7 linked regions of the Homo sapiens genome follow. The protein of the gene in region 1 purifies or fractionates together with the protein of each later gene. This does not show direct contact. Each region holds a gene or a part of one and is shown on either strand. Other genes may lie near its edges. The genes, in order: AP1S1, NPEPL1, NHLRC2, AP1B1, TRMT1, TRMT61A and ARMC6.

Region 1 (2,975 bases):
CAGGGCTTGACAGAGAGAGGCCCAGCGGAATGCAATAAAAGAGCCAATTGTCTGCGATCAGTCCAGCGACCTCTGGTTCAAAAGAAAAAGGCGACCCGCAGAAGGTGCCACAACTCTGGGTGCCAGTGGGCTCCTTTTTCCCAAGATCCTGGGGCCGCGCGGGTAATGCCGGAGTTTCCTGTGTTCACCCACCCACCTCCCTCCACTGATCCCTACATTCCTGGTCCTAGGTACTTTGCAAGAAATGCGGGGAGGAGGGAGTGGCAGCCACAGAGACATGCTGGCTAAAGCCACTTCTTAACTTTTTTTTTTTTTTTTTTTTTGAGACAGGGTCTCACTATGTTGCCCAGGCTGGAGTGCAGTGGTGCAATCACAGCTCACTGCAACCTCGACTTCCTGGGCTCAAGTGATCCTCCTACCCCAACCTCCTGAGTAGCTGGGACTACAAGTGTGCACCATTATGCCCAGCTAATGTTTGCATTTTTTGTAGGGATGAGGTTTTGCCAGCTTGCTCAGCTGGTCTGGAACTCCTGGGCTCAAGCGACCTCCCCACCTTGGCCTCCCATCTTAAGCCTTTTCTAATCGCAGGTACTTGTGAACTGATTCAAATAAAACTAAACTGGGCAAACGAAATCACCCACAACAGACCCGCATCCTGAAGAGTTGCTCCTCCTTCCATAAAGGCAGCTCAGGGAGTTGGGGGCAGCCCGTTTGGAGACGCATTGGGCATAAAAATCCGTTTAAGGTAGGGTGGCCAGATAAAATACAGGAAATGAAATCTGAAATTCCAGATACACAACAGATGCAGTTTTAGAGTTAAATGTGTCCCAAACACTGCATGCAACACATTTATCCCTAAAATGATTTGTTGTGTATCTGGAATTCTCATTTAACTGCGTGCTCTCCGTTTCTTCCCAAGGCTGGCAGGATCCCCTTGGCCTCCCGATGATGCCAGCAGCCCTGCCTTCCTTCACAGAGCCCAAGGCCAGCAAAGTCCAGAAATGCTTTTACTTTTATTTCAGAAGAAAGGACATAAAGGCAGACACTTCCCCCTCCCCCTCCCCACCCCTCCCAGCTCCTGCCTCACCCAGAACTGGAGTGAAAGGCCAGGGCCAGGACCAGGGTCCCATAAAGCTTGCCCTTCCCCCAACCCTTCCTTCCCTCAAAGTGGCAAGGTTAGAAAAAAATTAACTATGTTGTTCCTCCCTGGCACTGGATAAAGGCCCCACTGCAGCCAAGGAGAAAGAGGGGGGTCCAGGCTCCCCTCCCAGGCAGAGAAGCTGCCTGGCTGGCTAGGGGGAGGGTGGAGGTAGGTTATGGGACAGAGAGGACAAGAAGTGCCCTGAACACCTTTTCCCTTTAACCTGACATATTTATATATTTACAGTTATTAGGGAGGGAAGGACATCTGGGGTGACATCAGTTCTGCAAAGGCAGGGAATAAAAGCCAAATAGCACCCCCATCTGGGTCACATTTTCCTGCCTCCTAGCTTCTAAAACCTTCAGTGGGAAAAGGGGAAAGTGGAGGTAGGGGGTGGAGGGAGGGAATGTTTGAAGGGCCTGAGCCCACAGCTCACTCCGAAAGGTGAGGCAGCAGAGGAGGGGCAGCCGAGTCCCACCAAGAACAGGGCCCTGGGCAGAGGAGAAGCAGCCGTTCCCGCCACGCTGCCAGGACCCCATCGCCACACCCCGGCCCAGCAGGGGCTATGCCAAACCCATCTCCTCCAGCACACTCCGTGGCGACTCATCCTCCTAAGGCAGAGACAGACAGAGGGTGACGCAGAGACACCAGGAGAGGCCGACAGGGTGGGCAAGACAGCAGTCACGAGGAAGAGTCAGACGGGGGAGGCACAGACACGGGGGAGGGGGAGAGAAGCCAATGTGAGCCCAAGGCCGGACCAGTGAGCCCTTCATGGGGCACCCACCAGCCTCCCAGGGCCAGCCCCAGAGCCAGCCAACAGTGGCAGGGGGGGTCCAGGTTGAGTCCGTCACCACCCAGAGAACCCAAAGCCAGGACCTTGGTAAGCAGGGGCCCCGCCTTGACACCTGGGGGTAAAGGGAGTGAAGCCGGGACAAGGAGGTGGGGGATCTTTCTGGGGCCCTGGGGGGTACAGCTGACTGGGTCCTGTTTTTCAGAGTGGGGAAAAGGCAGAGGGAGGTGAGTGCCAGGTCCCTGAGGGAAGGTGAACCAGGCTGCAGGGAGATGCGTCATTAGGGTCTGAGCGCAACACTGGTGACACGATGGGTGTGTGTGCCAGGGCATGTGTGTGTGTGTGTGTGTGTGCGCGCCAGGGTGTGTGTGTGTGCGTGTGTGGGAAGGTGAAGCTCGACCAGTGAGGTGGCAAGTTCAGTTCTGCCCTCTCTCCCACTGCAAAGATGAGCCCTCCCTCGCCCCCCATCTCTCCCCCTCCTCAGAGCCAGCTCAGGCCGGGCTCGCTCATCACTGCAGATTCCGGTGACTCATCTCCCTGCACCAGGGCTCGGTGATGGCACAGCAGAGAGGGGGCAGGCAGTAATGGGGTGAGGGCGGGGGCGCTGGGGAGCAGGGAGAACCAACATCCAGGTGCCCTCTGCCAGCCCCCAAATCCCCATAGCCTTTTCCTCCTGAGACGCAGAGGCTTTGGAGTATGTGTGTGTTAAAAAAAAAAAAAAGAAAAAAAAAAGAGAGGTGGGGGAAGAAATCAGGGAAGAAAAGAATGACCTACCAGGTGCCCCTTCTCCAATTCTCCAAGCAACCCTTAACTCCAGAGCAAACCCTTAACCCTTTGGTGTTAAGCCTTGCTCAGAGAATTGGACAAAGGAGACTGGGTGGCCACGAGACATCTGGGGGCTTGGGAGAAGGACAGAGCTTGGAATGAGGGGTGCACAGGTGGGCTATCTGCCACCCTACCTCCCACCCCATGGGGTCAGGGCTTGAGAGTAAGCTGGAGAGCTGGGCGTGGTGGGGGTCAGATACCACAGGGAGGGGGGGCTCC
Region 2 (5,111 bases), on another chromosome or scaffold:
GGGGATGCCGAGAGGTGGCAGCAGTCTGGGGAGCAGCGGGAGGGAGGGAGACCTCTGGATGGGGCAGATGCACTTCAAGGAGGGACGGCAACACCCCATCCAGCAGTCCTTAGAAAACAATGTCAGGATGGGGGCAAAAACTCTGTCTCCATGGGTTAAGAGGGAAAAGAGGATTAAGCAAGGCAAACCAGTTAGACTTTTTTAAAAGCTCAGAGACGAAGGGAAAAAAGGGGAGCTATCTCATGCTGGTGAAGATGGAAGAATTTGGGTTGAGGGGCAGTGGTTACAGGCCTCAGAGAGCACACAGTGAAAGAAATGAGGTGTGGCCCAAGTGCTGATGTGGGAGAGCTTGCCTGGGTGAAGGCGACAGCCTTCCAGAGCCAGAAGTGAAGAATGAGCGCTGACACATGAGAAAAGACAACCTGGGTGGCGCTGTGGGCTCGGGGACTGGAGGTGGCAGGCGCAGAGGCTGGGACCGCTGCCGTGGGGACAGGAGCCTGATGTCAGGCCCATCCAAGGATCTGGAGCTGGGAAATCACTTCCGGCCTTGCAGCCTCAAAAGGATCATTCTCAGCATTGAGTGAAATAACACATGTAGAAGTGCTCCCTGTAAAGGGTGCAGCAACACACATGCACACACACCACACACACACCACTCATGCACACACTAGCACTCATACACACACAGCAACACACACAACACACACACACACCACTCATGCACACACCAGCACTCATACACACAGCAACACATGCTGCTCATGCACACACCAGTACTCACACACAACAACACACACCACACATGCACACACCACACATGCACACCACACACACACACCACTCATGCACACACCAGCAAACACACACACACAGCAACACATACCACACGTACACCACACACACCACTCATGCACACACCAGCAAACATACACAGCAACACATACCACACACACACACACATCACACATGCACACACACACCCCCCACACATACAACACATGCACATACACTCATACACGCACAGCAACACACATGTGCACGCACATACACACACACGTGCATACATCACACACGTGCACACGGAGCTCACATAAACGGGCAGGGTTATTTGGAAAACAGCATGGACGTTCCTGGCACTGATTACGTGCTCAACAAACACTGCCTGTATACAACAGAATCCTGAAGTCACAGACCACGCTGAGGCAGAGGCAGGGGGCCTGGGTTTGGAAAAGCCTCTGCCGCTTCCCAGGAACCAAAGCTCCTGGGAAGGGCAGGAACCCCCTCCTGCCCCCGCAACAAGCTTTTCCCTCTCCCGACCTCCCTCCCACCTGCCCGATCTTGCCCGGGCCCAGGGGCAGTGTCTGCCCTTCCAGACACCCACCTGCAATGTGGACACCTCCACCGGCCCGTTGTCTTGTCCCACCAGGAAAAACTCCACGGTGACCGTCTTCTTCTCCAAGCGCCGAGAGGCACCTGAGCGGTGGGTGAACAGCGGGAAGGCCCGGGCCAGGGCACAGGCGGAAGCAAAGACCTCCGGCTGCTCGCAGACCATCTGTGGCACATAGGGAGACGGCGTGAGGGGTGCAAGGGCCGCCACCAGGGAGTGCAGGGAGCTGCTCTTTGAACGCCTCCGGAACATCAGCTCCCTGGCAGGTGACATCTAGACAGAGATGTCCCACAGCAGCCGCCACCCCATCCCTCAGGTCATCCCCGGAACCATGGGACCACCATTGGTCATGCTCCAAGAGAAATAACACATTGGCCACCAGATGTCAACAGCCTGACCAGCCATGAAAATGAGGGACAGAGGGACAGACACAAAGTGGGCCTCAGGAAATCTAGGTTTGAGTCTCTGATTTGCCACCAAAACTGATCTGGGGCAAATCCCCGCGTCTCTCTGGACCTGTTTCCCTGTCTACAGAGCAGGGATGATAACGTCCACAGCCCTCTGGGCGTGCGCTGCAGTCTGAGCAGGGCTGTGAGCTCCCCAGGCCCGAGCTCACCGCTGCCCGACTAGGAGCACCGTGGCTGCCTCCTCTCGAAGCACTCACCACAATGCAGCGATGCGCTCCGGGCGGCAGGCAGGTCCGCACCAGCCGCGTGATGAAGTGGGCGGCCGAGGGGCTGTTGTGCCGGCTCACCCTGCAGGGCAGGGCAGCCACGGTGGCGTAGTTCAGGTAGAGGGGACAGCTGTCCGTGGGGTTGGGGTTGAGCGTGCTCAGGGCAGCCTGCCAGAGCTAGATCAGAAGGGAGAGACAAGACACAGAGGCTTCAAACAGCGGCCACGTGCCAGGAGGCCCTGCCCTGCAGCCACGGCCACAACCACTCCTGCAGTCCTGGAAGGGCACTGCGCAGCTCCCGGCCACCGTTTTCCCATCCTTAGGGAGATGTGTCGCCTCTCTGCAGAGCTAACTGTCTCTAGGCTGGCTCGCATCCCCCTGGTGGGATGAAGCCACCAAGCCTGGAAGGGCCAGGCTGGGGGCTGCTTTGCTTCCAACACTCGGATAGGGCTTAGGCGGCTTCCACCAGAGAGGGGGCAGGGGCCAGGTGTCCCCAAGGAAAGGCAGCTGGGGACACTGCCATGGGAACTTCTGGAAGCCAGGGCCTGTCGCCAGGCGGGGCCGACGCGCGGCCCTGGGAGCGGCCACGTCTCCCCCCCCGCCGTCCGCAGGTGTCGCGGCCTCGCGGGGCGCAGGGCTGGGCTGACAGGAGGACCACCGCGCCGCACCGGCGACGGGGCCTGGGGCTGGGCCTCCGCGGGCGAGGACTGGCCTGGCGGCTGAGCCCTTCAGGGAGGCGGCCCGGCCTCGTTGGGCCCGGCCCGGCGGCGGCGGGGGTGCGGCGGGCGAGGCGGGGCCTCCGCGGGCCGCCCGGGCCTGGGCTTCCGCGGCGCGGGTCGCATGGCGGCCGGCGGCCCGCTCACCTCCTCGGTGACCCGGGGCTGCAGCTTCCCGCGGACGTGGCTCCAGGGCACGCGGTGCAGGTGGTGCAGCTGCCCGAGCAGCAGCAGGGGCCGGCTCTGTGGGTCCGAGTCCCCCGCGCTCGCCTGGAACTGCAGCCCCACGTTCGCCATCTTCCTGCCGGCCCACGCCCCGGCCCTGCCCGGCCCGGCCCGGCCCGCCGCTCGGCCCCCTTCGCCCCGCTCCGGCCCGGCCTCGGCACCGCCCCGGCCCTGCCCGGCAGCCCGCGGGCCCCGCCTCCCCCGCCGCTCCGGGCTGCTCGCGAGACGTGCAGGGCCCGCCCGGGGCGCGAGGGGGCGCCGGCCAGGCCGGGCGGAAGGGTGCGGGCAGGCCCGGCCGGGCAGGCCCGAAGCCGGCCCCGAGCAGGCCCTGCCGAGTAGGGCCCGCGCGCCCGGCCTCCAGCGGCGCCGCCCCTGGGCCTAGCGGCCCTGCCCAACACGCGGGGCGACGTGGCCCGCCAGGCAGCGCCTCCCGGACGGGCCTGGCCTCCAGTGGGGCCTGGGCCGACGTAGGCCCAAGCCCACCCGACGCAGTTCCGCCCGGTCAGGCCTCAGGCTGGCCCCAAGCAGGTCCCCCGAGGTCCCTTAGCAGCTGCTTTTGATCCCCAGGGACCCCGCACCCTGGCCACCCATCAGTTAGGCCGGAGGGGCCCAGTGACTCTTGGACCTGAGTCAGGTCCTTTTGTCCCACTGCCTGGCATGGTGGGTACAGCGTGGACGGTCACTTCCTCCTCACTTAATCGGAGGTTCCCTGGCGTTTATCAGACCCCGCTCTGCCAGGCACTGCCCTGGATGTGAGAGGGTGACAGGGACGTGGCTTTCCATCCAGGGCACTGCTGCTGGGATGGCCAGTTACAAATCCAGGCACTGCCTGGCTGCATGGGGGGCCTTCCCGCCCACCCCTTTGCAAGAAGGGTCATCTGGCACAGTCTAAGCAGGAAAGGAGGGACGAGATGAGACGAGGAAGGAGCAGGGTGACCTGAGTCACCTCAGTCGCCTTACAGGGGAGGAAAGGCCATCGGGGGTGTGGGGCAGGAGCCGGGTGGTGGAGGAGCCAGGGGTGAGCCTTGAGTGGATGGTGGAGGCGGAGGGTCCCACCCACAGGGTCAGATGCAAGGGTCAGGGAATGACGATGCATTGGGGAAGCTCCACCCAGGAGTCATTTAAAAGCAAAAATCTGTTACCCAACATCCTGATTGCTCAAGGGCCTTTGGTTGGTACCCTCCTCTGTTACCTCCATGTAGTTCCATAAGCCACTCCTGTTATTTTGAGTTTCTTCTTCATAACCAGCCTAAAAATGAAAAAAAAAAAAAAAAAAAAAGAAAAGAAAAAAAGAAAAAAAAGCACTGTCAACTCCCTGGCGTGGTGTGAGAGGTTTTCCACCACTGACCTCCCAGCTGGCCCCCTAGCTCCCTAACTTGTAGCCCCGGGAGCCACAAGCCAGGCTTTCACCTTCCCTGTCCACAGGCTCCAGGTCTGTCTGCTCAGCTCTGAGCCATGGTCCCTGGCCCCTTGGAAACACCACAGACTAGAGCTTCAGCATCCTGAAGGCAGGTCTTTTTGACTTTTTGTTGTTTTTTTTTCCTCCAGTTCCTGGCACAGAGCAGGCACTCAAAAAAAAAAAAAAAAAAAAAAAAAAAAAAAAAAAAAGCTGTTGAATGACTGAAAGGCATTCCTTTGAAACCCTCAGCTTTCCCGACATAAAAGTCAACGCTAATTGGATCTTATTTTCTTCAAAAGATTTTACAGCAGCTGAATGTTTTCACACATTGGTAAAGGGTACTAACAGTGTGTATGAAGATCTCTCACTCTTTTTTCTGTTTGCAAATACGTTGCAGACAGGCACACGGCACTCCAGAGGACTGAGACAGCTGGAGGATCTTCCTAGAGGGTGAGAGACTAAGGCCATGCCCTGACAGATGTAATAGGACTTCCACAGGCGAAGAGATTGAGAAAGAAGGCCTTCCACGTGGGAGAAGTCCTGGGAGGAAACACAGACGCAGAATATGTCCAGCAGGCTCTGAAACCTGTGTGGTTAGAACAGAAGGTTCCTGGAAAATAGGAGTGGGTGAGGAGATCGACTGGGGAGCCTGGCTCACTCTATAGAATTTTGCAAACTGAAGAGGGATCCAAGAAGCATTTCAGAAAGCCA
Region 3 (4,324 bases), on another chromosome or scaffold:
ATTAGTAGAGAACTTCTTATATTTTATTTATTATTTTTTGAGACGGAGTCTCGCTCTGTCACCCAGGCTAGAGTGCAGTGGCGTGAGCTTGGCTCACTGCGAGCTCTGCCTCCCTCCCGGGTTCACGCCATTCTCCTGCCTCAGCCTCCTGAGTAGCTGGGACTACCCCACTACCACACTCGGCTAATTTTTTGTATTTTTAGTAGAGATGGGTTTCACCGTGTTAGCCAGGATGGTCTCGATCTCCTGACCTCATGATCTGCCTGCCTCTGTCTCCCAAAGTGCTGGGATTACAGGCGTGAGCCACCACGCCTGGCCAATTTCTTATATTTTAAATCAAACAAAGAAAATAATACTGAGCTATTTTAATGTCCAAATCTAGAAATAAAACAGAAAATGTTTCTTTAGATATTTGTCATATATATCACACACACAATTTGTGAAGTTACAACACATGTGGTGCTTTTATGCTGCCTTTTTTTTTTTGGCTTAAAACTTGCATATATTCTAACTTCTTTAAGATTATACAGACCAAAATTTGGCTAAAAATAAGTGTTTCTAAATAACAAGCCAAAAGAGAAAATGTCCTTTAAACATAAGTGTACAAATGTACTCTATAATATTCAAAAACCTTAAATTATTAGGATTATTGCCTGAAAATTATCTGCTACTATATAATAAAAATGGGGCCCATATCTTGGACAAATTAGATAAAGTCTCTATAGACTACTTTATTTGAATACTATCTGTATTTTATATCCCAATGACTCAATATTAATTAGTGTGTCTGACAATGCAGACCAATGTTAATCTGTCAATATCCTATTTTAAAAATTAGTACACTGCTCCTACAGTGACACCATTTAATACACTGCTCTAACAGTGACTGCTCTTACAGTTACACTGAGAAAAATTAATGTTCTCCAACTGATGTAATACTTCCAGACTTAAATTGGCAGTCTAGAACTTGCTCTGAACCTACAAAAGGCTATGGAGTGGCCAGGGTTTGAGTATTCTTCTGTCTACAAAGCAAGCTCCAAAGGTCCTAGTACATGGTTAGCCTTCCCCCTTGTGGGAAGTGACAAGGGGTGGTTTCCCTACAGACTCAATCACCCTAGAACCAGCCTCCCAAACACTAACCAGCAGTTCCTCCCAGCCAGTCTACCAAGATACCGTTATCCTCTTGGTTTAGACACTAAGTTGATATTATAATTGCAGGCCAGTGGCTGCTGCCCTGAGAAAGTTGAAGGTAAGAAGGAATGAATTACCCAGGATTTGGGTAATGTACAAAAGAAAAGTGTGTGAGAGGGTATGAAGGAGGAGGAGTTGGGAAGGAAATGGAAAATTGAGTGAGAAAGTGTGAAAGAGCGTGGGAGACCAGGACAGAGGAATATCATTAGAGACAAGTTGTAATTTAGAAGTTCTGAACCACTAAAATTTCACTTTAAAATTTTTGTCCACCAGGTTACAGATGTTGGAATGCATACTGCAAGGCAAGCAGTATACTGATTCCTTACCATAGATTAATGAAATAAGGAGCTAGCTCATACTGTGATTCACAAATAGAAGAAAGGGAGGAATGCCCAAGAGTGACTGAAAGGAAGAGTCACAGAAAAAGATGTTAAATACGAGGGCTCCACTTTCTCTATTTCAGACTTTTTAACTCTAAGATTCTTTTTGGAACAAGAATAGAATGAAGAACAGGATCAGAATAAGGGATGAGGTATAGGAAAACCCACATTCCAAGAAATCATGCTAACAACTGACTTGTAACTTTTGGTGAGTTACACTGTTCTTTAATAAAAGGGAAGAAAGACTCTTGATGAGTAAAGCAAATGGCCAATGTGGGGTTGGATCTGGATTCATTTGTTCATATGATCTTCAAATCTTGCCTATACAGAGTAAAAATATCACCTAACAAATAAAAAATAACTAGATTAAACATCAAGAATATATGATGTATTAGTATTTGCAAGCTTATACTCATACCTTCAGCTGTTAGAAACCAGCAACTGGATACTCCTTCAGTTAGCTTTGATCCTGATGGGAGGTCTAATCTGAGTTTGAACTGAAGAGTCTGGCCAGCACACGCAGTCACGGGGGAAAGCCTAATGCTTGGAGCAGATTTAGGTAGTTTGGGTAATGTCTTCTGTTTTTCTACTAGGAACGGGCCATCTACCACAGCATTTTCAGATCTGAAGATGGGGAGCTAGGAAATAAGAAAATCTGTTATTAAAACACAAGAACTTTATATTAATTATAGAATGAGAGCATATTTTTAGACTTTAGTAGAATAATGAAGTTCTATGTCAATGAAACTAATCGCCATTCTAGTTTGAATTAGAATGTGTTAGATGCCCTCAAGATTATTTTCGTAGACACAGAGAAAGTTTATCTTAGCGACAACAACAAAACCCAACACTTATGAATGAGGCAGAATTAAAGTAACTGTCCAATGTATATAGACGGCAGGAAATTAAAGCAAAAGTTTATAAATTTAAACATGCTAGATATACATTTTCTTATAATTTTCATTGTCAACTATAAGAAGATGTTATTCATCTTATATCAGAGATCTACGTGAAGAGAAATGACATTTATGTTGCAATAGTAATCTATGTTTCTTTTAAAAATATACCGTGCAAATTACCAGTTTTTCAGAAAAAAACTGTTGCATTTTTTTCAGGTAAATGTCATACATCAAGAGTTAGTTTATAATAGACATTTCCCCTTGAAAATTCTATAAGAAACCACGTCCATATCTTTAAAAACTGACTATAACTCATTTAAGTTTCTTCCACAATCTTATTTTCGATGTCTTGAGAAAGTGGCTTCTAAAGCTTTTGTTAGATTATTTGGTAATGGATTCATCACAGGCAAACAAAGGTTACATGTTAATCTAAAGATCACTGAAAAAAAAAAAAAAACAAAAACAATAAGCTAAATAACCCAACCCACAGAGCAGGTGTATGTAGTGTATGTCAGTATGTCTGTACACTTAAAAACAGATCTGAGTCCTCTCCTTTTTTTTTTCTTGAAGGTTCATTAGATTATCTCCAATTTCCAGTATTTTTCTCAAACTCTCAGCACAGATGGAACTTTTATTTTAAGAATAAAAGGATATCCTTAAAGCAGTCCTGCTGGTCTCTTTGTCAAAGAATACAACAGAAGCATCCACTTAATACTCTCCTGGAGATGGTCTAACCAAAAATGCCTCTGTCAGTGCTGTGAGGATCTTAGTATCATTCTTAAAACCACATTCTTTAACTTATATTTTAAAATTACTTACCACAGATACCATTTTAGTTTCTAAATCCATCACTTTAATTTGATGATTATTGGTGTCTGCTACATATAATAATTCTCCATTCTCTCCAATACACAAGCCTCCTGGTTCATTAAAAGTTGACTCTGTAAAACTGGAACTGGTAACATTATTTGTGTCTCCAGTTCCTGCTAATGTTGTACAGTTTTTTGTTTTTGGATCCACAACTTTAATCTAAAAAAGAAAGAACAAAAACTTATATAACTGAAGATCAATCTCATGTTTGTTGTATGGAAGAGTATGGTATCAAGCAAGCTAATTTCTGATTGCCATTAATATTCTCAATAAGTCTCACAAAAGGAATAGTTATTTCCATATTTTCTTGAAAAGCCAAACATTCAAATTGCAGTCTAAGGGGAGATATTCTATTCTAAGAACTAAAGACTATGTAAAATCCTTAGCTCCATCTTGTCTTCTGGAAGCAATCTTTGATGAAGTTATTTCTGGAATTAAAAAAAATTTTTTTTTATTGAATTGTTTTTCTTCACAATGGGACACACTTTCACAACTGAACTGACTTTGTCTTCCTGAGCATCTAGCATTGCCTGAGAATTTGCTACCTTTGTTAAACTTAATGATTGACAGTTATGTCTCAATTATATTAAATTTATGGTCTCACATCATGAAGTACTGCATGAACATTTATTATCCACTGATTTTTGTAAAAAGTAAAAATGCAATAAAACTTAAGACAATTTAATAGACAAAAATGGAAATGCTGAAAACAAAATTATTTACTAACAAGCACTGTAACTATGCAACAGCTCAAAAACGTTCATTTGTTAGATGACATATAAATTTCCCTGCTACTTGCCTTCTCTTGATATACTGAATATGTTACTAAGCAGCTTTGATGGGTTGCAATTCACAACTGTTGGCTATTGCCATTGGAACTGGTTCTGTGCTTTCCCTAGTTCAGAATACCATCATAACCTCTTGGCAAAGAAAGGACCAAGAAAAGAGCAGAACAGGCTGGGTTATAGTTGTCAAAGACTGTTA
Region 4 (3,500 bases), on another chromosome or scaffold:
CTGAAGGAGATTTCTCAGGACGGCATCATAGGCTCCAGGGTGAGCACGCCTCAAGGGGATAGGTCGGGGGCGACCACCTATCCTAGGACACTGTAGCCACCAGTGGACCCATTTAAGGAGAATCTGGCTTAGTGGTCGAGGAACATCTCCACAGACAGAGAAAGGACGGGGATAAAATGCCAGGACACAGGAGTCTAGAGTGGCCCTGGGACGCTGGGACACAGAGGCACGTGGGCAGCTGAATGATGACAATATTTGCCAAGAAGTGTTCAACAGGCAGGGCCCTTACCCCAGAGCTCTGTGAAGTGAATGCTAAGTCCATTAACTTGTGGCTGCCCCAGCATCTTAACAAATGCTGCAGGAGAACCATGATTATGATGGGTTAATTTGATCGGCAGCAACTCGAAGGCCTAAAGGATACTATAGAGTGAGAAGGAACCCCACCAGATCTGCACAATGCTTGCCATGGGGGCTCCAGTGATGAGCCTCAGGCCTTCCCAGACCACAAGCAAGCTGGCAGATTCTGCTTGAATCAGACTGGTTTCCCGGTTTCAGCCCCCTTTTCCTTCTCCAGCCAAGGACAGAGTCCCAGAGCCTCACCTCCACCTTGATGGCGCAGCGGCCAATAGCACGCACAGCCTTCCGTACAAAGTCCACATCCACTTCTGTTGCGTACTCTTTCAGCTCTGCCAACACCTGTGGCCCAAACAGAAAAGATGGGGCTGGGGCACCTGATGGGGCAATCTGCTGGAACACTCCTGGGCAGTGAATATACACAGACTCCCTAGGAGAATGGGATTCTGCCTCCTGCTCCAGGTAGAAGGCCCAAGGGAGAGAGCTGGCAGGTGCCTGAAAAGGAAAGAAGGCCTGGACAACCTTGTTTGGGGTTGATTTAGCTAACATATCCAACACCACGTTGTAAGGGATGACAGGTGATAACATGGAGAAACATTCTTTAGTAATAAAAACATCAGTTCTTTTACTTGCTTACGAAGCCCCATGTCCCATGCTAAACACTCTTCATGAGATAAACCGTTAATGGTGAGACTGGTCACCTGGGCCAGAGCCTACAGTCTGGTGGTGGTGGAATGGTCCCACACTGAGCCCGTGTCCTGACCATCACACGCAGCTGACCTGGGCGATGTTGGCCTGAGAGGCCAGGCGGATCATGATGTCCAGCTTCTCCAGCTTCACGTAGATAGGGTCGTTGTACTTCACGAAGAACACCTTCATCTCATGCTTCAGGATCTCAGGCCTGGTGGTGGGGCAGGATGCCCGGAGAGCAAAAAACAAGGCTTAAGCCCTGTGAGAAAATGCCCTCCACATTTGCTGGGACATTTCTGGGGTCTGAGGTGGAGCCTGATGTCTGTGAAGGCAGAGTCACTGCCATGGCTGCAAGCTCCTGGGTAGAGGGCCCAGCAACCGGCCTGAGCAAGGCTGTGACTGCTCCTGTGTGCCTGAGCACGTCGCCGGAAGGGAGACGGAGGGCAGTGAGAGACGGCTCACTCACTCTCCAGAGGCAGCAGGCCCCATGGGACGGGCTTGGGAATCAGACATATCTCAGTCCCAGTCCCAGCCTGTGACCTCAGGCCTGTTTCCTCACCCATGAAATGGGAATGACGCTGTACAGAAACATGTTACTACTGCAGGTCTGGGACTGCTAGCCTCAGAAGGCCTGGCACGTGGCAACTTGGATTTTGAAGTGTTCTCACTGTTCCCTAAATGATAAAGGTATTTAACTGTACCTAGACCATTTGTACAAAGAATACAGTTTATGCTGAACACATGCTTCCCTACTGGGAATATGGAATTTGTGTAGGTGCCCCCAATAACAAACTTGGGTGCCGAAGTCTCAAATAGGCTTTCCTGGGCAGAAACATTACATACATGTTGCTGCATTTTGTTGGGGGAGGAGTGTGCTCTGTATGACTCCCCATGGGAAGGAGGAGGTACAAGGAAGCCTCTCATGGAACCCTCCAGACTCCACCTGTGTCCTTCTCCCCTATGACCCAGCCGGGCAGCCCTGCTCTGCTGCTGATAGATCTTTGCTGTGGGTATAGCTATATGCTGAGTCCTGGCTGGGCACAGCAGCTCATGCCTGTCATCCCAACACTTTGGGAGGCTGGGGCAGGAGGATTGCTTGAGTCCAGGAGTTCAAGACGAGCCTCGGCAACAGAGTGAGACCCTGTCTCAAAAAATATATATATTTAAAAAATATATGCTGAGTCCTGTGAGTACTGCTAGTGAAACCTGAGCATGAGGGTGGTCTTGGGACCCCAACATGGACACCGACCTAATCGGCCTGCTGTGAGAGTGAGACGAGAAGCATCCAGCATGATCGATGCCTGCCTCAGAGAAGGCACCGCTAGGCAGGAGCTGTCACTAGCTGAGCCCTTTCACATGTGTCATTGTTCCTCCCTCAAAGGCAACATCCTTCTGCCTTCCGCGAGTATCACCCACCACATTTTTCCTGAACAAGGAAACTTCAGAGAGGGTGAGAGGCTGGTACTAGGTCACATGGCTAATGTCAGTAAAGACGAGAGTGGGGCGAGAATCCTCTGCCTCTGACTCCTACTCCTATGCCCTTCCAGAACAGAGAGGAGGAAGGAAAAGATACGAGGACAGATGGTGAGGAAGGGAGAAGACAGGACAGAGAGAAAGGAGAAAACTGGGTACTCTGTGCTGCTGTGCACACTGCGGGGAGGTCCTGGCCAAGCAAGGAGCCTTTGTCGTGCCCCATGGGAGAGGCAAGACCCCGAGCTGGGTAGCAGGAAGATATTTCTGCGATTAGGACTTGGCAAAAGCTGCCCAGCCACATCTCAGGACCAGGGCAGGGCATGTCTCAGTGACGTGGACAAATTCTTAAGAGATTTACTATGTTAAATATAGCACAGGGAATCCTGCACGCTGATCTGCTCTACTAGTCACTACGCCGCATTAAATCCGTGACCCAAGGGCACTGGCGTATAAAGACCCACACTGCAACCAGGAAGCCCTAGTTTCATCCCTTGGTTTAGGAACTCAGAAGGCTTTCCCATATTTACCTCCCTAATAACCCAATTCGACCAATATCTCTGGGTCCCCCGGGAGAGTACTAAGACCCAGACTGAAGCTACAACCAGGAGGATGTGCTGTCTTCCAAGAGAAAATGACTAATGAGGCCCCAGTTCTCTGTGTAGCCCCACTCCCAGCCACAGGGCCTGCTGTAACATACGAATGATCAATGGTTGCTACTGTCAAGTCCCCACGAATGATCAATGGTTGCTACTGTCAAGTCCCCACTGCTGACTGAGCCATTTGACCAAAAGCTGTGAGGAGAACTCAAGGTCAATCCCCCTCCCCAGAGCTGCAGGGCTCTGCCACTCAGAGCCACTTCAGAGGAAGAAGGGGATCATGCCATGAACCCCTCCGATCCAGCACTGCTCAATGGTTTTTCTGCTCTCGCCTACCCCCCACTACCATACCACGTGCCCTGGGAGCAGCAGCTCACTGCTCAGCCA
Region 5 (4,324 bases), on another chromosome or scaffold:
TGGCCTTAATAAACATTTTTATTTAACGACTGTGTGCCTGCATTGTTCTCAGTGCTGGGAATAGACAGTGAACAAAATGGACAAAAAGTTACCCCTGGTATGCTGGTAATGCTAATTTTCTTTTCTTTTGGGATGGAGTCTCACTCTGTCGCCCAGGCTGGAGTGCAGTGGTGCGATCTCGGCTCACTACAAACTCTGCCTCAGGTTCAAGCGATTCACCTGCCTCAGCCTCCCGAGTAGCTGGGACTACAGGCATGTGCCACCACACCTGGCTAATTTTTTTTTTTTTTTTGTATTTTTAGTAGAGACAGGGTTTCGTCATGTTGGCCAGGCTGGTCTTGAACTCCTGACCTCAGGTGATCTGCCTGTCTTGGCCTCCCAAAGTGCTGGGATTACAGGTGTGAGCCACTACGCCCAGCCCAGTCAGCAGATTTAGTTATTTTTATTTTTATTTATTTATTTATTTATTTATTTGAGACGGAGTCTTACTCTGTCACCCAGGCTGGAGTGCAGTGGCGCTATCTCGGCTCACTGCAAGCTCTGCCCCCCGGGGTTCACGCCATTCTCCTGTCTCAGCCTCCCGAGTAGCTGGGACTACAGGCACCTGCCACCACGCCCGGCTAATTTTTTTTTTTTTTTTTTTGTATTTTTAGTAGAGACAGGGTTTCACTGTGTTAGCCAGGATGGTCTCAATCTCCTGATCTCGTGATCCGCCTGCCTCGGCCTCCCAAAGTGCTGGGACTACAGGCATGAGCCACCGCACCCAGCTATTTTTTTATTCTTTTTGAGATGGAGTCTCGCTCTGTCGCCCAGGCTGGAGTGCAATGGCGCGATCTAGACTCACCGCAACCTCTGCCTCCCAGGTTCAAGCGATTCTCCTGTCTCAGCCTCCTGAGTAGCTGGGATTACAGGCACCCACCACCACACCATGCCCAGCTAATTTTTGTATTTTTAGTAGAGATGGGGTTCCACCATGTTGGCCAGGCTGGTCTTGAACTCCTGACCTCAGGTGATCCACCTGCCTCAGCCTCCCAAAGTGCTGGGATTACAGGCGTGAGCCACCTACCCAGCCCCAGTCAGCAGATTTTGAATCTCACTTGAAGAATGGGCACGAGTCTGTGTGGGGCAGCATCTGTGTTGTCTGCACACACATGTGCTTCCATGTCTGTGGGCAGCCCTGGCCGCTCCTGCATGTGCTTGCCCCTACCTGGGCTCCACACTGAGAATGCGGAACGCTGGGCTAGTCTCTGATAGTCGCTCCCGTTTCACCGGACATTCCTTCTCCTGGGGGCAGAGGTCAGAGGTTAGGGAATACTAGGCCCAAGGGACCTCCAGGTGACCACCACCTGCCCTCCCACCTGCATGAGGTCAGCCCTGCCCTCACCCAGCAACGCATGATGTCCCAGAGGGCAGAGGCAGGGGCATCCGTCTTCACAGCGTTCTTACAGGCGTGGGAGAGTGAGACCCGGAAGTCAGCGTGGAGGAGGGCCGACCTGGGGAACAGCAGGGATTATGAGGGAGATGCCGGACTCCTTGACCCCAAAGCCCAAGCTGACCAGCGTAGGTAAGACTACCTTCGGCAAGGGCTCATGGCTACAGAGTTCATTTCTTTTCTTTTCTTTTTTTTTTTTTTTTTTTTTTTGAGATGGAGTCTCGCTCTGTCGCTCAGGCTGGAGTGCAATGGCGCAATCTTGGCTCACCACAGCCTCCGCCTCCTGGGTTTAAGCGATTCTCCTGCCTCAGCCTCCCGAATAGCTGGGACTATAGGCATGTGCCACCACGCCCAGCTAATTTTTGTATTTTTAGTAGAGACAGGGTTTCACCATGTTGGCCAGGATGGTCTCGATCTCTTAACCTTGTGATCCGCCCGCCTCAGCCTCCCAAAGTGCTGGGATTACAGGAGTGAGCCACCGTGCCTGGCCTTCTTATTTATTATTTTTTTGAGGTGGAGTCTCACTCTGTCGCTCAGGCTGGTGTGCAATGATGCAATCTTGGCTCACTGCAGCCTCTGCCTCTCAGGTTCAACCAATTCTCCTGTCTCAGCCTCCTGAGTAGCTGAGATTACAGGGATGTGCCATGACGCCTGGCTAATATTTTGGTATTTTTAGTAGAGATGGGGTTTCGCCACGTTGACCGGGCTGGTCTCGAACTCCTGGCCTCAAGTGATTCGCCCGCCTCAGCCTCCCAAAGTGCTGGGATTACAGGCATGAGCCACCACACCTGGCCTTTTTCTTTTTCTAATTATTATTATTATATTTTAAATGGAGTCTCGCTCTGTTGCCCAGGTTGATGTGCAGTGGCGCAATCTTGGCTCACCACCGCCTCCTCCTCCTCCCAGGTTCCAGTGATTCTCGTGCCTCAGCCTCCCAAGTAGCTGGGACTACAGGCATGTGCCACCACACCCAGCTAATTTTTGTATTTTTAGTAGAGACAGGGTTTAACCATTTTGACCACGCTGGTCTTGAACTCCTGACCTCAAGTGATCTGCCCACCTCAGCCTCCCAAAGTGCTGGGAATATAGGCATGAGCCAATAAGCCTGGCCTAATTTTTTTTTTTTTTTTTTTTTTTTAAAGAGACAGGGTCTCATTTTGTCACCCAGGCTGGAGTGGCATGATCATAGCTCACTTTAGCATCAAACTCCTGGCCCAAATGATCCTCCCACCTCAGCCTCCTGAGTAGTTAGGACTATAGGCATGTATCACCATGCCAGGCTAATGGGTGTGTGTGTGTGTGTGTGTGTGTATACATACGTATGTATGTGTGTGTATATGTATGTGTGTGTACATATATATTTATTTATTTATTTGTTAGAGATAGGGTCTTACTACGTTGCCCAGGTTGGCCTCAAGTGATCTTCCTGCCTCAGCCTCCCAAGGTACTGGGATTACAGGAATGAGACAGTGCACCGGGTTCTCCCCACCCCCTCGCAAGTTCTATGCATGAGAATCCCTGGACTTGCCCCAGGCCACCCTGTGGTCTGGGACAGGCTCCTCCCGACCCCAGGGGCTCTTACCGCAACTGCAGGAGGCTTGGTGTGTTGCAGTGGATGGTGCTGCTCAGCTGGTCCAGGGTGTAGTACAGAGGCACGTCCGGGAGCTCCTGCGATGGGGGACAGGATGGGCATGAGTGGAGATGGACGGGCACAGGTGGAGCCCCCTTCCCCGTCACAGCCCGGCTCTCACCTCAGTGATGACGCTCAGGACCCCTCGGATCCGCTCCGAGGTGTGGAAGCGGCCGGGGTTAGCGCTCACAGCCTCCAGGACACGGCCCACAAAATCCAGGTCATGGATGGGCTCTGCCCACATGGGGCCACCAAGCTGGGGGCGCACCGGGGACAGGTGAGCAGGGACTATGACCTTCAAGACCCTCTTGCTCCTTTGCCTCCCCTGGCCTAGCCCTACCTGGTGTCGTTGCCCACAGTGTTCACACTCGGGGGTCACAGGGGGACCACAGGCTGCAGAGAACTTGGCCCTAAACAGAGAGGGGTGGTTGGTGGGGAGGGAGGAAAACCCTGGGACTCCCCTTCTTCTCCTTCCTCCCTGCTCACCGGCCGCTGGGGACTCCTGACGCTTTGCCGAGACGCTGAAGGTGGAAGGCCCCGCAGCCCACACACTGGAACACCAGCGCCTGCTTGCTGTGGGGGGTACCAGTGGCCACGAGTTCCCAGCGTGACCACGACACCCCAACTCCTCCCTTAGACTGGCTCTGTCCCTTAAGAAGCCCCAGATCCCCCAGGGCAAGGTCCTGTCTCCTCTCTCAATCCACCACCGCTCTCTGCCCCCGGGCTGACCTGGCTGAGGCCTTGACCTTGGCCTGGCCGGTGAAGACACGGACAAAAACACGCACGTAGAAGTCAGCGCTGATGCTGAGCAGCGGCACCACGAAGCGCTGGTAGCAGTTGGCGCGGAGGTCCAGGCTGTGCAGGACGATTCTCAGGGCCTGGGGGTGGGGGGTGGGTGTCAGCCTCCCCTCCACTATCCACCCACCCCACCAGGAGCCCTATGTGGTACTCACAAGTACAGGCTCAGGGCCAGCTCCCTGGGATCCAAGCCCACCCCTGAAAGTCCTGGCTGTGGGACCCTCAACAAGTGAGTATCCCCTCTCTGTGCCTCAGTTTCTTCATCTGCAAAATCACAACAGTCCCTGTCTGTGGCACTGCTGGGGGCACTAAACGAGTGAGGAAAGCATAGATCCAACCTATTCTGACCAGCATTATCGGTGTGCCATGTGGCATGTACTGAGGACCCACGTTCCAGCCCCCAAGGGCTCTGTGGGCAGGAAGTGGGGATACTAGGTGCTGTAGAACTGCTGGGGCCTGGGCCG
Region 6 (5,011 bases), on another chromosome or scaffold:
TATAGGGAATGAGAGCAGCCCAGCTGCCTGGAGCCTCCGGGGAAATCTGTGCAAGGGGGACAGGGAGGCCATCCCATCACTCAGCCCTGTCTTATTCCATGCATGGCCCATCACTTCCTCAATCCCCGTCAACAGTGGCCCACCCTGCCGGTCCTCATGCCCACCTCTCCCCAGAAGCTCCTTGGTCCCCTTGAGACAGCCCACCCCCACCAAGCCTGCCCAAACCTGCCCCCACCACACAGGGGCTGGGGCTCTGCCCTGGCCTGGTTGGACTCAGGACGCAGGGCCTGGCCACCAGCCACACGGCCCCAGTCCTCCCCAGCGCACCTGCCCCCAGCTTCCCTCCCCAGCTTCCCTCAAGATGGCCCCTCTGCTTGACTTCCTGTCTTATGGAGAGGGTCAAGGCTTGCATCCCTCCTCCCACTCCAGCTTCAGGGGCCATCTACCTGATGCCACTCCCATCCCCAGGCCCCTCCACTGGAGACTCCTGCTAGAGCAGCCACTGCACACTTGCCACCCATGCCTGGAACCCAAATAGCGCTGAGCATCGCAAGTGCTTGGGCCAGACCCATGGAGGTGCCTCCACTCCCTCTATCCCGTCCCACGTCCTGCCACCTCCCACATTCCTTTCAGGGGCCAGCCCCTCTCCCCACCTGTCCAGCCCCTCCCCTGGGTGCCCCCAGCCTGCTGCCTCGCCCCTCTGCAAAGCCTGGCCATGCCCCCTTCCCACTAAGGGGCAAGTCAGACTTGTTAGCCTCCGGGGTGGAGCTCGCTTCCCCTCCAACCTCACTCCCAGCCCCTCTGCCTCCCCCACTGAGCCTGACTCGGCAGCATGCTCCAACTGCAGGGCCTCGGCACGGCTCCTCCTTGGTGCAGAGCTGTCCCTTGGCTCTTCGTAGGTCCCTCCTCATCATTTTCAACTCAAATGTCCCCTCCTCAGAGAGGTCTTCCCTGCCTGGCCTAGCTGGAGAGTCCCCACTCTGGGTACCCCTCAGACACGCAGCCCTGTCTCACAGGCTTCACAGCAACCAGCGGCACTGAGATGCTCACCTAGGCTGTGTCCCCCTCCTCGAGGGCAGGAACCTGGTCTCTCTAGTTCACGGTTCCTAGGAGGGGACCTGGCATATCTGAGGAGGCCAGGAGAAGGTGCTGCTTGATTGAGCTCTCTCGCGAGAGTGGGGCAGGGGCGGAGAGGCCAGCACCCACCACAGGATGCACAGGAGCAGCAGCTGATGGAGTTGGCTAAGTCCTGCTCTCCACCCCTCCCACCCAGACACCCCAGGGAGGGACATGGTGACCTGCAGCCCTCAGAAAGCCAGCATGGCAGTGCTAGGCACTCTTCGTGAACCTGGACCCTAGCTCTCCTGCCCGGGAGGAACACGCCACCAACAACCTAGATGCATCAGCGCCTGGGGCCAATCTTGGCTTCAATCGCCACACTGGGCGGCCCCAGCACCTGTATATGTGCAGGGGTTCCCACAGCCCAGGCCCTGGACTCAACAATGGTGCTCACATTCATTGGTAGCAGGTGAGGATCTGATCATGGATGAGGATGGGGAAGGCTCCCCACCTACAGTGAGCTCCTCGGGGTAGCCCTGGCCTCTTTCCAGAAGGGGCAACTCTCTCTGCTTCACCATCAGCACGGAGGACTAGAGGTTGACGGTCAGTACCTAGGACAGCGCCAAGCATCAAGCTGGCCACGCCCCACCAAGGCAAGCAGGACCCTCACTAGAGCACCAGTCCTCCCCAGCTCCTCCTGGTCCATTTCCCACCACCTCTCACTCCAGTTACAGCACCAGCCTCCTAACGGGCTTCTCTGCCTCCACCTTCACTCCCTGCTGTCAGCATCCCGGAAAGATGTGAAAATAGAAACTGAGGAGCCACATGTGTCTGTAGGAAGGGCAGGCTGGAGGCTCTGACCTCCACCTTTGTGTCAATTTCTGCGTTAAACTGAGGCAGCCTGAGGAACTCACCAGACTCACAGACCACAGAGCCGGGCCGAAGCTCCAACATCATGGTGATGAGGGCGATGTCTGTGGAGTAGAGGATCTGCGTGCGGTGCGGCAGGTTCAGCGTCCAGAGCTCGGGCGTGGGGTGCAGCACATACACCCAGCCACCTCGGCCGCACGTCACCTTGGAGCCGAAGGGGCGGCCGATAAGGTCAACTGAGTGCCGCAGGACACCATGCCGGGTCTGGGTCTGTGCCCCACGCTGCACACGCACCGCCACCATTGCACCATGGCCCAGTGACAGGATGGCCGTGTCACCCTCCTTGATCAGCTCCTCGTATGCCACGAAGCTCATGGTGCTAATGTCTGGCAAGGGCCAAGGACCTGGGGAGGGGTGTGTGTAGGCATGAGCAAGTCAGGAGGCAGGATGAGGGCCTAGGGTCTAGGTAGAAGGCTTCGAGGCCTACATCCCAGCAGTGGGCATGGGCGGGGTGTGGCTAGCTCAGCCTCAGTCTCTGCCACTGCCTGACAGGGAGCCCAATAGCGCTGCACTCTGGCCTGGCCTCTGAAGCCTTTCTTGGTCTAGGACAAGAGACAGGGACTATGAGCCTAAATCAGAGATGAAAAGACTGAGGCTTGGCAATGGCGGAGTTCGGTCCCAAGGATTCCCGGAGTGAGGACCCGACCCTCCCATCACCCTTCTCCAGGAGCTTGACTCCCATTCCCAAGATGTGAGATGAGGAAGCGCCTTTGCGAGGTGTCCACCGGCGGGGGAGAGGCAAATGGTCAATGAGGTCACCTCCAAGCCAGGCTTGATTCCTCACCCCAGTCTCCCCCACGGGGGCTAGGTGGCAGGGTATGACAGAGGATTCAGGGCTCCCCAGTAAGGGGCTGGGGACGCGGAGCTGGCCGTCCACGCAAACACCGCCCAGCCGATGCAGAGGCAACAAGGGGCCAGGCCGGGCCGGCGGGGGCCGCCCATGCGAGGCTGGAGGGACAGGCCCTGCGCGCCGTGCCCGGCCCGGGTCACCCTCACCCGCGCCCTGCCACCCTGTACCCCGCGGAGTCTCACCTGCGACGCTCCTGCTGCCGGGGCTCCACACGTGCCTCCGCGACGCGCGGCGGCGGCGGCCACAACACTTCCGGCTCCGCGCCCGCTGATGACGTCGCGCCCCGCCTCCGCCTCCCCCTCCCCCCCTCCGCGCACGGGATCCTGGGAGCGCCAGGCTGCCCTTCCCGCCCCTCCCAGAGGACGTTTCCTGGGCGACTTCTTCCCTCATGTGAGCTGCTCTGTTTACATTTGCTGGTCGCTGGAAGATCGAAAGACTGGACAAAATCCATATGGCGGCCGGCCGGCGCGGTGGCTCTCGCCTGTGATCCCGCGCTTTGGGAGGCCGAGGCGGGAGGTTCTTCTGAGCTGAAGAGTTCGAGACCAGCCCGGGAAACGTAGTGAGACCCCCACCATCTCTACAAATAATAACAAACAAACAAAAGGTCCCCCCGCCCCGCCGGCCGCGGGTTGCCGTCGCACCCAGGCACATTTGAAGGGCGGCAGGAGCCAAGGCCTGGCTGTCACTGCTGTCCCGGACCCCTTTGACGGCCCCTGGGGGTTCACCAGAGGGCTGGCCCGTGGCTCACTGCCCAGTCCTCTATGAGGACACTTCGCCATAGACATTTTGTTATTGCAGACTGCTCTGGGAACACCCCTGACTGGGCCCTAAAATGAATTCCAGAAAAGGAATCGCAGGTCAAGGGGCGGTTCTAAAAGGCTTGGGCTAGGGTCAGCCAGAGCTCTGTGCAGCAGATGGGGGCCTGGAAAAGTCTGCAGAAGTGGCCTTCCGCCCAGGCCCTGCCTCCCCCGACGGGGGCACGTTGTCCTGAGTGCAGAGCTGCTTCTAGGAGGGAGTAGGGGTCCTGTGTCCCCTCCTGCGAACCAAGGCATAATGAGAACTGGATGACTTGGGCCCACTTTTGGGTCTGGTGAGCAGCCTGGGCAGGAGACTGGAGGAGGTGCTGCTGGAGGATGGGCAGAACAGGGAAGCGGGAGTGGCGTTCTGTCTCAGCAACACCATTCCCAGCTGGCTCCTCTGTGGAGTGTGTGTGCAGGGGAGCGGGGGCAGGGGACACGGATTTTCTTCCTCCAGCTCTTAGCTCTCAGGACCAGAGCTTGGAGAGGAACAGAGACCCCCCTACCCAGCCTAGGGTTTAGCCTGCGCCCGAACCCAAGCCAGTTAGCAATGACCCTAGGGCACCCTCCCCAGTCACTCAGCCACTCCAGCCTGGTAAGATGAGGTGGCCAGGCTCCTGCAGAGCGAGCTCCCCTCTGGAGCCCTGGCAGCCTGTAGAGCACTCTCAACTCTCTCGCCTCTGGGGCAGGCCAGGCCAGGCTGTTTGTGGCCCTTGCATTGGCTTCTCAGGGTCCATCATGGAAACCTAGGGGTCCAACCTCAGCCCCTCTGTGTCCCTGCCCTAGCTGCGGCTGAGAGCCCCCAGGAGTAAGCTGGTGAGAGGCCTTCCATGGCCTCCCACTCTCTGTGGGCTCCTGTCCCTGTGGGGCCACCACGCTGGCCACCAGCTGCCTCTACTTCTGCCTTACAGCCTCCCTGCCTTCTGCTCTCAACGTTGAAACAGCCCCCTCCACAGCTCCCGAACCTGTGTTCCAGCGGATGCTTCTCTCCCTTGATGATGCACCCGCCTGAGTCACCCCCTAATTTCTCCCCTGGGGGATTCTGACTTTCCACTTCTCTTGGGTTTCTCTTCCCCAGCCTCTCAGCTGTGGTTGGTGTGGAGTCAGGGCCGGGTGCCTATAAGGGCCTAAGGTAGGACTTGGTGACTCGGCGGTGGTTTCCCTTGGTTCCGACTTCCCTCTTGCCTCTCTGTCTATTACTGGCTGGTCAACTCCTCCAGTGCCCCTTCCTCCAGGCAGCCTCCTCAGCCCTGCCCACCTGCTCCATCTGAGCCTGCCCCAGTCCCCAGCCTGAGTCCTCAAGCAGAACCAATCCCCCCTACCTCAGCTGATGATTCCCTGTGCAGAGTTTGTATTGGGGCTCCCCTAACAAGAG
Region 7 (4,324 bases), on another chromosome or scaffold:
TGCAACCTCCACCTCCCGGGTTCAAGCAATTCTCTTGCCTCAGCCTCCTGAGTAGCTAGGATTACAGGCGCCCACTACCACGCCCAGTTAATTTTTATATTTTTAGTAGAGACGGGGTTTCGCCATGTTGGTCAGGCTGGTCTCGAATTCCTGACCTCAGGTGATCCACCGGTGTCAGCCTCCCAAAATGCTGGGATTACAGGCATGAGCCACGGAGCCAGGCCAAATCTGCATTTTTACATAAACGTTAGGGCAGAGAGAGCAACTGGATATGCATTTGTCTCAGGTGATGACTTTCTGTCCTGCACTTGTGAAGATCACCTGTCAATTTACATTGCCAGGGTGACATTCAACAAAATTGTTTTCAGGTAAAGATCTTGAGGGCCACAAGGAATTTCCTGGCCTGGCCGGGGTGGTGGGAGTGGAGTCCCCTACTCCTTACTCCCTACTGAGAAACTCTTTATATTACTCTTCCTTCACCTTTAACCTTGGAAATCCATAGCAGCCCTTAAAGAGCTCCCTTTTCTTCTGGGGCAGAAAGGAGAGGGGCCTATCTGCAAAAGAGTGAGATGGGACTCCTGCATAAACTTGCTGAATTGCCTCTTAAGCAACAAAGGAAAGGAACAAATAGCTAATTTATTGAGCCTGTCCATATCCTGTTCTGAGGAAGGTATAGGAGTTGGCTGAATTTTTCACTACTGCCCTATGAAGTAGATTCGTGTTTATCTCTGTTTGACACATGAGGGAATTGAAGAAAAGTGTATCTGGCTGGGCGTGGTGGCTCATGCCTGTAATCCCAGCATGATGGGAGGCCGAGGCAGGTGGGTCACCTGAGGTCAGGAGTTCGAGACTAGCCTGGCCAACATGGTGAAACCCTGTCTCTACTAAAAATACGAAAATTAGCTGGGCGTGGTGGCGTGGGCCTGTAGTCTCAGCTACTTGGAGGCTGAGGCACAAGAATCGCTTGAACCCAGGAGGCAGAGGTTGTGGTGAGCCAAGATCGTGCCACTGCATTCCAACCTGGGCGACAGAGCGAGACTCTGTCTCAAAAAAAAAAGAAAAGGGCATTGAAGTGGAGGGCATGGGAACTGGGTTCTGCAGGCTGGCTGCGAGCCAGTCCTTCTCCCGTCAGGCAGTGTGCAGTCCATGGTGGGCATCTGCAGGAACACAGATGGAATGTGTATATCCCATGCCACTGCCTGAAAAGAGAAGCATGGGCCAGAGTGACCTGTTTCTTTTTCCTTTTTTTTTTTTTTTGAGACAAGGTCTTACTTTGTCACCCAGGCTGGAGTTCAGGGATATGATCTCAGCTCACTGCAGCCTTGACCTCCCTGGGCTCCCACCTCAGCCTCCCAAATAGCTGTAACTACAGGTGCATGCTCCCACACCTGGCTAATTTTGGTATTTTTTATAGAGATGGAGTTTCGCCACGTGTCCAGGCTGGTCTCAAACTCCTGGCCTCATGTGATCCTTCCGCCTCGGCCTCCCAAAGTGCAGGCCACCATGCCTGGCCTGAAGTGGAAACTTGATAATTCCAGAACGGAAACTTGATATTACTGCAATAAGCAAGGTGGATATATTGAAACAATTAAAATTTAAAAAGTTGTTAACCTCTGTTAGGCTCTGGACCTAAGGCCTGTTCCTCCTTTTGTTCCAAAGGGACGGTGGCAAATGTTAGGTTCACTCGTACCCTGTCAAGACCTTCTGGTTAAGATCATCTACAGCAGGGGTCCCCAATTCCTGGGTCACAGACCCATACTGGTCCAGTGGTCCCTGGCCTGTTAGGACCTGGGCTGCACAGCAGGAGGCAAGCGTAGGGTGAGCGAGTGAAGCTTCATCTGTATTTACAGCAACTCCCCATCACTTGCATTATGCCTGAGCTCTACCTCCTGTCAGATCAGCAGCATTAAATTATAGGAGCACGAACCCTACTGTGAACTGCACATGCAAGCGATTTAGGTTGGGCACTCCTTATGAAAATCTAATGCCTGATGATCTGTCACTATCTCCCATCACCCCCAGATGGGACTGTCTAGTTGCCAGACAACAAGCTCAGGGCTCCCACTGATCCTACATTACAGTGAATAGTATAATTATTATATTACAATGTAACAATAATAGAAATAAAGTGCACAATAAATGTAATGAGCTTGAACAATCCTGAAACCATCCCCACCCTAGCCCCACCATATCCATGGAAAAATTGTCTTCCACGAAACTGGTCCCTTAGGCTAAAAAGGTTGGGACTGCTGAGCTACAGGTTTGAAACAGAATTGCAAAGGGATTTGGTGTTTTTACCAAGAGTTTTATCTTACTTAACTCTATGTCTTGTTCCCACCTGTCAGAGTGGAAGGTACTGCCCAAGGTTAGTGGGTCATCTAAGTGTTGATACCTACCCCTGGTTTCCAGGGTATGCCTATACTGGGTTTTACTTGTTTGTTTATTTATTTATTTTTTGAGACGAAGTCTTGCTCTTGTTGCCCAGGCTGGAGTGCGATGGCGTGATCTTGTCTCACTGCAACCTCCACCTCCCTGGTTCAAGCCATTCTCCTGCCTCAGCCTCCCGAGTAGCTGGGATTACAGGCGCCCCACTAATTTTTGTATATTTAGTAGAGACGGGGTTTCGCCATGTTGGTCTTGAACTCCTGACCTCAGGTGATCTGCCTGCCTTGGCCTCCCAAAGTGCTGGTATTACAGGCATGAGCCACCATGCCTGGCCTTACTTGCTTATTTTTATTTTATAAGGTGGGTTTGTGTGTATACACACACACACACACACACACACACACATTTTTTTTAAGAGATATGGTCTCACTGTGTTGCCGCAGGCTGGTCTCAAACTCCTGTGCTTGAGTGATCCCCCCGCCTTAGCCTCCCAAGTTGCTGAGATTACAGGCACAAGTCATTGCTCAGTTCTTTTTGTTTTTAAACAGATTAGCACTTTAAGAAATTGAGCTATAATTTACATACCATAATATTCACTCATTTGATTTAGTAATTTTTTTTTTTCTTCTGGAGACATGGTCTCCCTCTGTCATCCAGACCGGAGTGCAGTGGCCCAGTCACAGCTCACTGCAGCCTTGAACTCCTGGGCTCAAATGATCCTCCTGCTTCAGCCTCCCGAGTAACTTCAACCACACGCAAATGCCACCACACCTGACTATATTTTTAAATTTTTTTGTAGAGACGGGGCCTTACTATGTTGTCCTTGCTGGTCTCAAACTCCAGACTTGAAACAGTCCTCCCACCTTGGCCTCCTAAAGCACTGGGATCACAGGTGTGAGCCACCATGCCTGGCCTGATGTAGTGATTTTACGTTTTCACAGAGTTGTACAACCATCATCACTATAATTCAAGAACGTTTTCATCACCCAGAAGGAAACCCTATACCCATTAGAAGTTACTCCCCATTCCCTCTCCTCCAGTCCCTGGCAACACCCAGTCTGCTTTTTGTGTCTGTGGATTTGCCTGTTCTGGATATTTCATGTCATTGGAATCGTGCAATATGAGGCTTTTCGTGTCTGGCTTCTTTGACGAGACATCATGTTTTTGAGGTCTATCTCCATTGTAGCATGCTTCAGCACCTCATTCCTTTCTCTGGCTGAGTAATATACCACCATGCGCACAGACCATTTTATCCATTCATCTGTTGGTAGACTCCGTCTCCTTTTCTTTGTTCTTGTGATTTATTTGTTGAAAACTCTGGGTGTTTGTCCTCTAGTTGACATTCTCTTCCCTAGTAGGGATTTTGCAGATCACATCCCCATGGTGTTGGTTAAGGTGTCAGAGCTGTGCTGTGCAATACCATAGTCACTCGTCACACATGGCTATTTACATTAACAAATTAAAATGAAATAAAATTACACACTCAGTTCCTCAGCCACACTGCCACACTTCAGCTGTGTGATAGCCACAGAGGCCAATGGCTTCTGTACTAGGCAGTGCAGATAGAGAACGTTTCATCATAGCAGGAAGTGCCCTGAATGCATGATCAGATTCGGGTTTGAGATTTTGGCACGATGACTTCACAGGTGCATTTTGTTCTTGTTCAGGAGGTAGGTGTTGCTGGTTTCTCTTGATGATGTGAGATCAAGCAGTAGACTGAGTTCCTGTCTACCCCTTGTTGGGCTCCCATCAGTTTTACACCTGATGGTTTTGGATCCTGTGGGATCATTATCTGTTTCTCTCCTGTCACAGCTGATCAGCTGGAATCGGAAGCAGAACTTTTCCTCATCCTCTTTTTATAACCTGGGACTCATTTGTACAAGGGAGGCAGGTTAAGTGCTAGGTTTTTTTTAAAAAAATTGTTACTAATTATTGTAGA

Evidence for each region.
Region 2: the proteins of AP1S1 (region 1) and NPEPL1 fractionate together in Homo sapiens (co-fractionation; one large-scale study listed by BioGRID). This does not show direct contact.
Region 3: the proteins of AP1S1 (region 1) and NHLRC2 fractionate together in Homo sapiens (co-fractionation; one large-scale study listed by BioGRID). This does not show direct contact.
Region 4: the proteins of AP1S1 (region 1) and AP1B1 fractionate together in Homo sapiens (co-fractionation; 6 studies listed by BioGRID and IntAct, with this or other methods). This does not show direct contact.
Region 5: the proteins of AP1S1 (region 1) and TRMT1 fractionate together in Homo sapiens (co-fractionation; one large-scale study listed by BioGRID). This does not show direct contact.
Region 6: the proteins of AP1S1 (region 1) and TRMT61A fractionate together in Homo sapiens (co-fractionation; one large-scale study listed by BioGRID). This does not show direct contact.
Region 7: the proteins of AP1S1 (region 1) and ARMC6 purify together in Homo sapiens (affinity purification with mass spectrometry; one large-scale study listed by BioGRID and IntAct). This does not show direct contact.

Annotation. Positions count from the first base shown.
Region 1 is NC_000007.14:101,159,296-101,162,270, reverse strand, and holds the end of AP1S1 (AP-1 complex subunit sigma-1A), read right to left. Parts: intron 2,799-2,975; exon of another isoform or gene 2,716-2,798; intron 1,753-2,715; coding exon 1,705-1,752; 3' UTR 995-1,704; downstream 1-994. UniProt on the Homo sapiens protein: Subunit of clathrin-associated adaptor protein complex 1 that plays a role in protein sorting in the late-Golgi/trans-Golgi network (TGN) and/or endosomes.
Region 2 is NC_000020.11:58,690,863-58,695,973, reverse strand, and holds the start of NPEPL1 (probable aminopeptidase NPEPL1), read right to left. Parts: upstream 3,175-5,111; 5' UTR 3,074-3,174; coding exon 2,924-3,073; intron 2,238-2,923; coding exon 2,052-2,237; intron 1,553-2,051; coding exon 1,382-1,552; intron 1-1,381. UniProt on the Homo sapiens protein: Probably catalyzes the removal of unsubstituted N-terminal amino acids from various peptides.
Region 3 is NC_000010.11:113,902,702-113,907,025, reverse strand, and holds part of NHLRC2 (NHL repeat-containing protein 2), read right to left. Parts: intron 3,500-4,324; coding exon 3,290-3,499; intron 2,210-3,289; coding exon 1,990-2,209; intron 1-1,989. UniProt on the Homo sapiens protein: Required for normal embryonic development.
Region 4 is NC_000022.11:29,350,571-29,354,070, forward strand, and holds part of AP1B1 (AP-1 complex subunit beta-1), read right to left. Parts: intron 1,256-3,500; coding exon 1,135-1,255; intron 697-1,134; coding exon 601-696; intron 1-600. UniProt on the Homo sapiens protein: Subunit of clathrin-associated adaptor protein complex 1 that plays a role in protein sorting in the late-Golgi/trans-Golgi network (TGN) and/or endosomes.
Region 5 is NC_000019.10:13,106,367-13,110,690, forward strand, and holds part of TRMT1 (tRNA (guanine(26)-N(2))-dimethyltransferase), read right to left. Parts: intron 3,941-4,324; coding exon 3,792-3,940; intron 3,636-3,791; coding exon 3,549-3,635; intron 3,473-3,548; coding exon 3,403-3,472; intron 3,319-3,402; coding exon 3,184-3,318; intron 3,101-3,183; coding exon 3,015-3,100; intron 1,494-3,014; coding exon 1,385-1,493; intron 1,285-1,384; coding exon 1,208-1,284; intron 1-1,207. UniProt on the Homo sapiens protein: Dimethylates a single guanine residue at position 26 of most nuclear- and mitochondrial-encoded tRNAs using S-adenosyl-L-methionine as donor of the methyl groups. tRNA guanine(26)-dimethylation is required for redox homeostasis and ensure proper cellular proliferation and oxidative stress survival.
Region 6 is NC_000014.9:103,527,272-103,532,282, reverse strand, and holds the start of TRMT61A (tRNA (adenine(58)-N(1))-methyltransferase catalytic subunit TRMT61A), read right to left. Parts: upstream 3,088-5,011; 5' UTR 3,022-3,087; intron 2,334-3,021; 5' UTR 2,305-2,333; coding exon 1,974-2,304; intron 1-1,973. UniProt on the Homo sapiens protein: Catalytic subunit of tRNA (adenine-N(1)-)-methyltransferase, which catalyzes the formation of N(1)-methyladenine at position 58 (m1A58) in initiator methionyl-tRNA.
Region 7 is NC_000019.10:19,036,138-19,040,461, forward strand, and holds part of ARMC6 (armadillo repeat-containing protein 6), read left to right. Parts: intron 1-4,324.